Linked DNA regions of Homo sapiens: region 1 is reported to be linked to region 2. Evidence: microRNA targets listed by miRTarBase, many of them from high-throughput screens and not tested one by one. Region 2 holds a microRNA gene; the other region holds the end of a gene's coding sequence.

What was found. The annotated mature microRNA hsa-miR-6716-5p reads UGGGAAUGGGGGUAAGGGCC and lies in region 2 at 3,514-3,533, shown strand. An mRNA with a match to its seed (bases 2 to 7 or 8) in the 3' UTR can be bound and repressed. Matches are read on the target gene's strand: a 7mer-m8 pairs with bases 2 to 8, a 7mer-A1 pairs with bases 2 to 7 and ends in A, and an 8mer does both.
Region 1: the mRNA of KCNK1 is a reported target of hsa-miR-6716-5p. The part of its 3' UTR that is shown has no 7-base or 8-base seed match.

Annotation. Positions count from the first base shown.
Region 1 is chr1:233,669,965-233,674,207 of GRCh38, forward strand. It overlaps KCNK1 (potassium two pore domain channel subfamily K member 1), which reads left to right. Exons shown (of 3, transcript NM_002245.4): 3 at 1,307-2,550. The coding sequence ends at 1,566. Among named protein-coding and RNA genes, the nearest start is that of MIR4427, 48 kb to the left of the region's middle.
Region 2 is chr11:118,640,502-118,646,603 of GRCh38, forward strand. MIR6716 (microRNA 6716) reads left to right here and starts at 3,499; the gene lies at 3,499-3,578. PHLDB1 (pleckstrin homology like domain family B member 1) reads left to right here. Exons shown (of 23, transcript NM_001144758.3): 13 at 1,753-1,893; 14 at 3,299-3,439; 15 at 3,571-3,673; 16 at 4,855-5,149; 17 at 5,234-5,324. RefSeq lists an enhancer at 3,474-3,973.

The DNA of each region.
Region 1 (4,243 bases), not on the chromosome of region 2:
TTAGTTTCCTTATTCCTGTTATGCTGCCAATTTTAGCTTCCCTACTTCATACATTTTCGAAAATCCTTCTCAAATGTTTTACCACTGGGACATAAAATCAGAATTTTTGTTATTCTTGGAGTTTTCATCTTCACATTTCTGTTCCTTTTTATGATTTTTTTTTCTGAAAACTCATTTTTAAAATGATGGAAGGAATTTTAAATCACCATTTCCCATCACAGATTCCAAGCAATACATTTTACTTGAGTCAACAGTTATCCTTCATTTTCCCAGTAACAAACTGGTAATGTTGGCCAGTGAATAGTCCACATGTCCAAAAACAACTGAGAGATAATGAAGAGCTTGGCTTTGTTGCTGGATTTAGGTGCAAGTGTAGATAGCCATGCACAAGGACCTATTTAATATCAACATACATTCTTAAATTTTTGATTTAGTTTAGTGTATTAGTCTGTTTTCACACTGCTGATAAAGACATACCCGAGACTGGACAATTTACAAAAGAAAGAGGTTTAATTGGACTTACAGTTCCATGTGGCTAGGGAAGCCTCACAATCATGGTGGAAGGCAAGGAGGAGGAAGTCACATCTTACATGGATGGCAGCAGGCAAAGAGAGAGAGAATGTGTGCAGGGGAAGTCCTCTTTTTAAAACCATCAGATCTCGTGAGACTTATTCACTATCATGAGAACAGCAGGGGAAAGACTTACCCCCATGATTCAACTACCTCCCACCAGGTCCCTCCAACAACACATGGGAATTCAAGATGAGATTTGGGTGGGGACACAGCCAAACCATAGCATTTAAGACTGCAATTTCTATTATAAACTCTTATTCTATAATAGAAATTGTAAGAGTATTGAGTGCTTAAAATCTTCCGAGCACCCCATGATAAAACAAAAACTTTTCTAAAACATCACTGGCTTTTTGTGAGCCACTGATTATAAAGCAGAGGTGGCAAACCCTCCTTGCATAAAATATCACACTTGGGTAAGTGCAGTATGTTATGTGTCTTTAATAATGCCACATCAGCCCCAAGTATTTTTTTTTTCTCAAAAATTGCAGCCTGTGATTCTAACTAATCCAAGTTCATAGGAGGTTAAATCATTCTTCATTGTCTTTCACTCTTTAATAATGGGTAGTTCCTCTTTGAACCATGAACTTAAAAACACTTCTAAAAATTAAGAAACTGGCAATGAGTTTATTCCTTAACAAACACTGTGTTGGCATGAGGTGGGGAGGTAAATCACTCGCTACTTGATTTATCCATGTTGAGATCACACTAAGACAGTGTCCTGTTTCTCACACAGGTTACCTGCTACTTGGCCTTATTGCCATGTTGGTAGTTCTGGAAACCTTCTGTGAACTCCATGAGCTGAAAAAATTCAGAAAAATGTTCTATGTGAAGAAGGACAAGGACGAGGATCAGGTGCACATCATAGAGCATGACCAACTGTCCTTCTCCTCGATCACAGACCAGGCAGCTGGCATGAAAGAGGACCAGAAGCAAAATGAGCCTTTTGTGGCCACCCAGTCATCTGCCTGCGTGGATGGCCCTGCAAACCATTGAGCGTAGGATTTGTTGCATTATGCTAGAGCACCAGGGTCAGGGTGCAAGGAAGAGGCTTAAGTATGTTCATTTTTATCAGAATGCAAAAGCGAAAATTATGTCACTTTAAGAAATAGCTACTGTTTGCAATGTCTTATTAAAAAACAACAAAAAAAGACAAATGGAACAAAGAAGCTGTGACCCCAGCAGGATGTCTAATATGTGAGGAAATGAGATGTCCACCTAAAATTCATATGTGACAAAATTATCTCGACCTTACATAGGAGGAGAATACTTGAAGCAGTATGCTGCTGTGGTTAGAAGCAGATTTTATACTTTTAACTGGAAACTTTGGGGTTTGCATTTAGATCATTTAGCTGATGGCTAAATAGCAAAATTTATATTTAGAAGCAAAAAAAAAAAGCATAGAGATGTGTTTTATAAATAGGTTTATGTGTACTGGTTTGCATGTACCCACCCAAAATGATTATTTTTGTAGAATCTAAGTTAAACTTACTATTTATAATGCATAGGTAACCATTAACTATGTACATATAAAGTATAAATATGTTTATATTCTGTACATATGGTTTAGGTCACCAGATCCTAGTGTAGTTCTGAAACTAAGACTATAGATATTTTGTTTCTTTTGATTTCTCTTTATACTAAAGAATCCAGAGTTGCTACAATAAAATAAGGGGAATAATAAACTTGAGAGTGAATAACCATAGTATTCTGCTGCAATAAATGTTTCTACCCTCTTGCGATAGAATGGTGTCAGATGTCTAACATGTTTATAAACATTTTTTTGAATTGAACAGGTTATGAAAAGGATTTATTAAAAGGTTAAGATACTTTGTTTTGAAAGTACATTGTGATTTGCAGCCACCTAGCACTAAAGCATAGAACTTAAACACGAATCCCTAAATGAACAGATTATGTTACATTAATCTGAGAATTTTAAATTTAGAAGCTAAAATAAATAAAAATCACAGCTGGTTGTAATCTTATGCTTTCATATATCAGAAGTGTGCCTCTATGTAGAATATATATACATATGTGTGTGTATATACATATATATATGTATGTATATATATACATATGTATATATATATATATGTGTGTATATATATATATATATATACGTATATATATATATATAGTCCTTCATAGAAAACATAAAGGTCACATTTAGATGACGTACACAGGATACTATTATATTAAGGATTTTAGAAAAGAAAATGAGAAAGCCCCTGTGTGATAATGAATGTCCACTGACCCCCGCAATGGAGCCTTACCTCCCATGGGTGGCTGCCCAGGAGTTGGTGGTTGAGGGGCTGGTAAAAATCAGTGCAAAATCAGCGCCCTCTGATGAGCCAGCCAAGCACTTTGATCGCGGGCCAGTCTCCTGACAGTGGGTCACTCGCTCAGTAACCTTCTACCTTCTGTACCATGTGCTGCCATGAGTAAATTATTACCAACTGCAGGGCAAAGGGAAAGCATCCCCTTACCCTTCGGAAGATTTGCTGAAAAATCAACTCACAAAAAGGCAGATTAATGAGAAAAGGCATACACATTTATTAACTACCATGCACACAGAAAGAATTACAGAGTGATTGTCCAATATCTCAATAGGGGTTCACATGCTTAAATATCTTACTGATTAGAGGACAGGGAGATGGAAAAATATAGGTGATTTTAGAGGGATAGTATATGATTTTTAGAGGAATCCAAGTGTGCTGCCCCGTAAGCATATTTCCTCCCTGCTGACCATGTCCCTGCAATAGAAGACTGCTGTCATGAGGCCAGATCATTGGTTAAGGGTAGAATAGAGAATCCTTGGAGAATAGAGGCATGCATCCTGCCATAACTGGATCTGCAACATTTCCGATGGTCACAAGCCTTGGTGTGGAGCAGAGTCCTGAGATGCTCATCAATATAAATCACAGAAGCTGGATTACACTTGGAGAGTGTTATTCTATTTTATGCAATGCAGGAAAAAATAATGGCTAGTTTGCTACAGCTGCTTGGCTCTAACATGAGAGGGAAGTTCAAAGTCCAGAAAATGAGGAAGTACGTGAAGAAAAACTTCTGAATCAGATGTGATTAATAAGTAATAGAGTGTAGTACTTAATTTTAGGAACTCGTTTGAATCCGCAGAGAACACATTAAACCTTAATGCCCTTCAGATTGTTGTTAATGTGAAGGGCAAAGTAGAAAAGTAGGAGCAAGTTTTGCCTCGGCCCCCACCCTAGCAGGCAGGAAAGTAAGGGAGGATGTCTTCCCCAGGGTTTCTTTTTGTCTTTGGCCGATGATGCTGCCCTTTGGTCCCCAGGGAGAAGCGAGCTTGGTCACCCAGGAGGAGCTCTGGGTCAGCCTCTCAGAGAACAGAAATTCGGCTTGCTGCAGGCATGACAAGGAGGTGGAAGATGAACAGTGTAGCTAAGCCAGAACTGACCTTGGGAACCCTTTAGTTGGAGGCGAGAGAGTGGGAAGTTGGAGGTAAAAGTGACTACTAGAGAATTCTGGGTGATGAGTACAAGCTGAACTCACTTGCTTAGCTTGAGCCTTCAAGATTGAGTTCCTAAGATGCCTGCGGAATGCCCTCAGGGTAGAACAGCAGCAGAAAGCCTTATCATTCCAGGACATGGTCCTGTGCGTGAACTTAAATGTGACACGTGTCTGGTAGGGATGTTGA
Region 2 (6,102 bases):
GACTCACCTTGGGCAGTGGGCCCATTTTTCTGCTAGGCTTTTAGCTGTTCTTGCTAAGGCCTCTTTCTCACAGCCCATCTTGCTCAGGCCCTGGTGATGTCTCCACCTTCCCCCACCTGTTTCTAGCTCCTGTCCAGGCTGATGGGGTGTGAGGGGACCCTGGGGAATGGTGTGACTGGTGCTCAATGCTGCATGTGTGTGCCCCACTGGGGACTGCCAGGTTGTTGGGGACGGGGAGGGGGTCTCTGGAAGCTGGGTTCTGATCCTCAGTGAACTCTTAGAAGGCCTTCTGTGGGCTTCTTTGCCTGCCCCCAGCCCAGGGCGAATTCAGGCATGGGCCTTCAGGGTCTGCTTGGGGCAGGACTGGATGCCAAAGTGGCTCTTTAAGAGTGGAGGGCAGGAGGAGCCTTCAGACAGTTGGTTCTGCTGCCCTTTTCTGGTCTCTGTCACTCCCTGCAGCCATCTATGGGCATAGCAGGCACCCTACCCCTGCCTTGGATTTTGTATTGACATGGAGTGATGGCCCTGTGGCCTGGCATGGAGTTTGGGGTGTTGGGCACCTTATTGAACCCTGTTAACCCCTTCTTTGCCCACCCCTACCCCTTCTACTGGGCACCCCAGGAATATGTGACCCTGGCAGAAGTTTTCCAGCTGTGTTCCCGCTTGGACCCCTATGCTTCTGCCACTTCCCCCAGTGTGCTCGCCCAGCCCCTGCCTGACAGTGAGGTACCAGCCACCGAGGGTGCCCACCAATGCCCAAGGACCTCTTTATGGATGGCCTAGATTCCCCCTTGGGCCTGGGTGGAGCTAGGGGGACAGAAGGGTCTGTGTTCGACAGTGAGGGAGAAGGGCAGCCTGCATAAGGGGAGGTTGGGAGTGGTTTCTTTTTTTCCCTGGGGCCTTGGGAGCTTTCTTTAGCTCCTATGGCCTGGGGAGGGGCACGCCTTCTGCTCTAGGATGAGGGTGTCGAGTTGAGAGGACTCTGGCTTTCCTAGGCTGCAGGCTCTGTACTTTCTGCCCTTTCCCTCCCTTCCCCTGTGGGTAGGGCCATCTCATGTGTTCTGGTTCCATTAACCTCTTATATTCCCTCCTGCGTCTGGCCTTGCTCCAAGTACGTGATGCTTGAGCAGCTAAAGGTGATGCGGGGCACCTCGCCCATGCCCCCAGCCCCTGTGCCAGGCCTTTCTCCCTGGGCCTCCGCCTCCCGGGACCTGGTTCCCACCACCTGCCTTCCTCCCATGCTGCCCTCCTCCTCGTTCGCTTCCATCACGCCTTCACCTAAGGTTGGTGGTTTGTGAGTTCTTGCTACCCCCACCCATGACTGGTGTGCTCTGTGTGTGTTTTGCTCCTGCTCACCTGGCCTCTTGGCTCTGGGCCAGCCCAAGGGGAGTGCCCAGTGCCTGCAGGCTCTGTCTGGTGGCTGGTTTCATGGCTGGTGTAGCACATGTCTGTGGTCTGGAAGTTGTACCCTGACTGTTTCTCTTTGCCCTTAGTACATTCAGGGCAACTGTTGTCTCACTGTTTTTCTCTTCTTTTTCTTGATGCTCTCCTTTCTCCCTTCCTTCCTCCCCTTCTTCCTTCACCTTCCTGTCCATTTCCCTGATGTGGCCTTCCTTTTTAACCTTCCCCTTCCTTCTTCCTCTTCTTTCTTCTTTCTCCCTTCTCCTGCCTTTTCCTTTCCCTTTATTTCCTGGCCTTTCCTCTCCATCCTCCCCTCCTGTCCCCTTTTCCCCTCCCCATTCCCACCTCCAGATGGAGAAGCTGCTGCTCCCTGCTGTAGACTTAGAGCAGTGGTACCAGGAGCTGATGGCCGGGCTGGGGACTGGCCCCGCTGCAGCCTCCCCTCACTCTTCTCCCCCGCCTCTGCCCGCCAAAGCTTCCCGTCAGCTGCAGGTAACCCCTCCTTCACTGCCCGTCCTCCCCAGCCTTTGCACCTGTCCACTCTGATACCTCCTGCCAATCCATCAGCCACACAGTACCACCTTGAGTGGAGGCGTCAGCCCAGTCAGGGCAATGAGGGCACCTCTGGGCCCTGAGAGGGTCACTCCTTGGGCAGCCATCCTGGCATGTGGGCAACCGGGGGGCCAGCCTCCATAGTCTAAAACTATCTGATTGAGTGTCTGGTGGAAGAGGATTCTGGAGCTGTGGTCAGTTTGGGATCTGTTTGGTGCCCTGTGCTGAGCTAGGCTGTGGGTCTGGCCTATGCTTGGCAGCCCCCAACACCTGGAGCTTCTCACCCAGTCTGGGGGCCTGACAGGCTCTTGGGCCTGTGGCAACTGGAACTAGTGTGTCCTGGGAAGAACTGCCAGTATTTTGTTCTCCTGGTCTCTCCAGCAGTGACACTTGGAAGCAGAAAACAAAGGGCAAAGACTCTGAAGTGACAGCCTAAGCCTCCTCAGAGTTGCCATGGAGGGCGTGGGCCTACCTGAACCTGCAGCAAGCAACTGACCATGGGGTGGGAAAGGGGGCTGGGCTAGTCTTCTCCTCAGGTTTCCTCCACTGACCAGCTGCAGTGCCTAAGATTGACCATTTAAGATCACCCCTTGAGTGAAGGCACTGCATCTGTAAGACTGTGACCTCAGCTAAAATTTCATGTTTCCTTGGGGAGGAGTTTGATCATGTAAGACTTCTACTGTGTACCCAGCTGGTTAGAGATTTTAACGTGTTTTGATTCTCTGATCATCATCATAGGCCTTTGAGGTAGATGAAGTTAACTCATTTTATAGATGAAACACTGGGGCCTAGAGAAGATAAGTAATCTCTCCAAGGCCACACAGCTAGGAAGTAGCAGAGCTTATGCCACGTCAGGGTTTGTGACACTAAAGGCCATATTCACCACATGCTAGTGCTGCAGGGGAGCTTGGCCATTATTTAGTCTAGTCCTACCCCCTTCTTTTGCAGATAAGGAAGCCAAGGCCCAGAGTAGGGAGGTGTGTGGCCCAAGGTCACACAGCCTGTTAGTGGCAGAGCTAGGACCAGAGGGAACCCAGCTTCTAGTTGGTCTCCTGCACAACTGCCTGACTGACATTAAATCCTTGCATGGGTCTGTTTACAGGTCTTTTCTTAGACCCAGGGTTGGGCTAGGGATTGGCCCAGGGAGGAACAGCCTGGAAAGGAGAATTGGCAGCTGCCAATAGCATCTGGCCATTGGGCTGGCTCAGGAGGCTTGTTGTCAGAGCCAGAAGGCCTCAGAGGCCTAGTGCCAGGGCGGTACGTCAGATCACAGCAGACTAGGTGACATGGGGGAGGTGGCCAATGGGGGAGCCAGGAATCACTGGGCACTATCTTTTCTTTCCAGGTTTACCGCTCCAAGATGGATGGCGAGGCCACCAGCCCCCTTCCCCGGACCCGCAGCGGCCCCCTCCCCTCCTCCTCTGGCTCTTCCTCCTCCTCCTCCCAGCTCAGCGTGGCTACCCTGGGGCGTAGCCCCTCCCCAAAGGTCTGAGGACAGTGGGTGGGGCTGCACATGTGGCTGGGGATGGAGACTTCCACCCTGGGGAGAGGCCAAGACCTTGGGAATGGGGGTAAGGGCCTTCTGAGCCCAGGTCCGAACTCTCCATTCCTCTGCAGAGCGCTCTACTCACCCAGAATGGCACGGGCAGCCTTCCTCGCAACCTGGCAGCCACACTGCAGGACATCGAGACCAAGCGCCAACTAGCTCTGCAGCAGAAGGGTGAGTGACTGCCCCGCCAGCCCACCTGCTCTCCTGAGGGGACCCTGGGTAGTTGCCATGCCTCCTCTATGCTCACACCTTTCACAGGATGTTTTTCCTTTAATTGGGATCTAGGCAAGACCAGAAAGGATTTAGAGTGGGTACCTAAAGAAGAGCTTCCTGGATATTTATCTAAAGCCTTCAGGGCAGGAGACTAAGGGCTTAGGGGGCTGTGACATCTTTCCTAGAGAGCCTAGCCAATAAGGGAACTGCTTGTTGACCTGAGTCGGGTTAGACATTGCCCTCTCTGGAGGGAGGGGATGGATTTGATGACTTCTAGAAATGGTTGCCTGAGATATTGGCTCTGGGGACCCAGGAGTCCTTGTTGCTTGTGTGCAATTTGGTTGTTTTGAAAGCCCATGTCTGTGCCTCTCTCTCCTCTTACCCCCTCTGTGTCTCTACCGTACCCTCTGCCTGGGGTCCCCCACGCCAGTCGAGTCGCTTCCCGCCGAGCCCCTCCCAACCGACGACCCAGCAGGTAGAACGTTGGTCATAGAGGGCATTGCTTTGGCCAGGCAGCCCCTGCCCTGGCATCAGCATGATGTGTCCTGCCCAGGTCCCCACTGCCTGCAGGCAGGGTCCCAGGCTGAGCTGGGTTGGGGTGTCTGCTGGCCTCACCCCTCCAGCTGGCCTCTCTTCTGCCCTCATCTGTGCTCTACCGTGTCTCCCCTGCCTTCTTTCTTGCGTTTGTTGCTTTTGCTTCTGCATTGCAGGGGGGTCTGCATTGGCAGTCTGGGTGCTCATGGGGTTTCTGCCATCTCTTCCTTCTCCCTTCTCCAGCAGGCAGGGTGGGTGCATGTATCCTGCCTAGACCTACTTAGGCCTTGGTTGTGAGCTGGAGCCAACTGGCTGTCGTGCTGCCCCAGCACTACTTGGGTAGGTTTGGTGTCCTATATGGACTCAGGGTGCGAAAGAGCACTGAAGCCAGACTGTGCATCTGTGGCCGGTTGTGCAGGCGACTGAAGCATTGGCAGAGCAGCCAGGCCTGGAGCTGCAGGGGCCTTAGGGAAGCTGCGGGGAGAGGGGGCTGCTCTGTGTTAACCTCTCCCTGCTTGCCCCTCCCTCTGTGTGTTGTGCTGCCAGTGGCCTGCTCCTTAGCTGCGTGGGGAGCCCACTGTGACTCCCATCTGTCTCTCCTTCAGGACAACAAGTGATTGAAGAGCAGCGGCGGCGACTGGCTGAGCTGAAGCAGAAAGCGGCAGCTGAGGCACAGTGCCAGTGGGATGCCCTTCACGGGGCAGCACCCTTCCCAGCGGGCCCCTCGGGCTTCCCCCCTCTCATGCACCACTCTATCCTACACCACCTGCCTGCGGGGCGGGAGCGTGGGGAGGAGGGTGAGCACGCCTATGATACGCTGAGTCTGGAGAGCTCTGACAGCATGGAGACCAGCATCTCCACCGGGGGCAACTCGGCCTGCTCCCCTGACAACATGTCCAGGTACACCCGACGCCTGGGCCCGCAGCCTCCCTCAGCCACCGCCTCAGCTCCTTGATGCACTTCCTCTTCCCCTTCTCTCCCCAGCGCGAGTGGTCTGGACATGGGGAAGATCGAGGAGATGGAGAAGATGCTGAAAGAGGCTCATGCAGAGAAGAACCGGCTCATGGAGTCGAGGGTGAGTCTGACCTGGATCGGGGAGGCAGAAGGTGTTGGGGCACAGAGCTACCTACTGCATGTCAAGGGCCTGTGCTCCACCCCAAGCCCTTCCACCCACATTAGCCTTGCCACATTCCCTTGGGGTAGAAAATGTTTTAAAAGGTTGTATTCTGGCCGGGCGCGGTGGCTCATGCCCGTAATCCCAGCACTTCAGGTGGCCGAGGCAGGCGGATCACGAGGTCAGGAGATCGAAACCATCCTGGCTAACACGGTGAAACCCCGTCTCTACTGAAAATACAAAAAATTAGCTGGGCGTGGTGGCAGGCGCCTGTAGTCCCAGCTGCGCGGGAGGCTGAGGCAGGAGAATGGCGTGAACCCGGGAGGCGGAGGTTGCAGTAAGCCGAGATCGCACCACTGCACTCCAGCCTGGGAGACAGAGCGAGACTCCGTCTCAAAAAAAAAAAAAAAAAAAAAAAAAAAGGTTGTATTCCTCAAACAGGCTTAGGGAGGCTTGGTTTGATTACAACTTCATAGCTCTTAGGAACAGAGAAGGCAGCATAGTAACCATTCTCTAACCAATAATTTCCTGTATGGAAACTTCCAGTTTTTGCATGTTTACTTCTGTAGACTTTTTGGCAACTACAGGAATTTTGATTCCTGTCTACCCGTATGGCAGGCCATTCCTCTTGGGGCTGATTAGGAAAAGCAGGAACTATGAGTGAAGTATAGACCAGAAGAGGAGGCAGATGTCCAAGTCAGTGTAGAGGTGTTGGCAGGGGAACCTTGGGAGCAGAGAG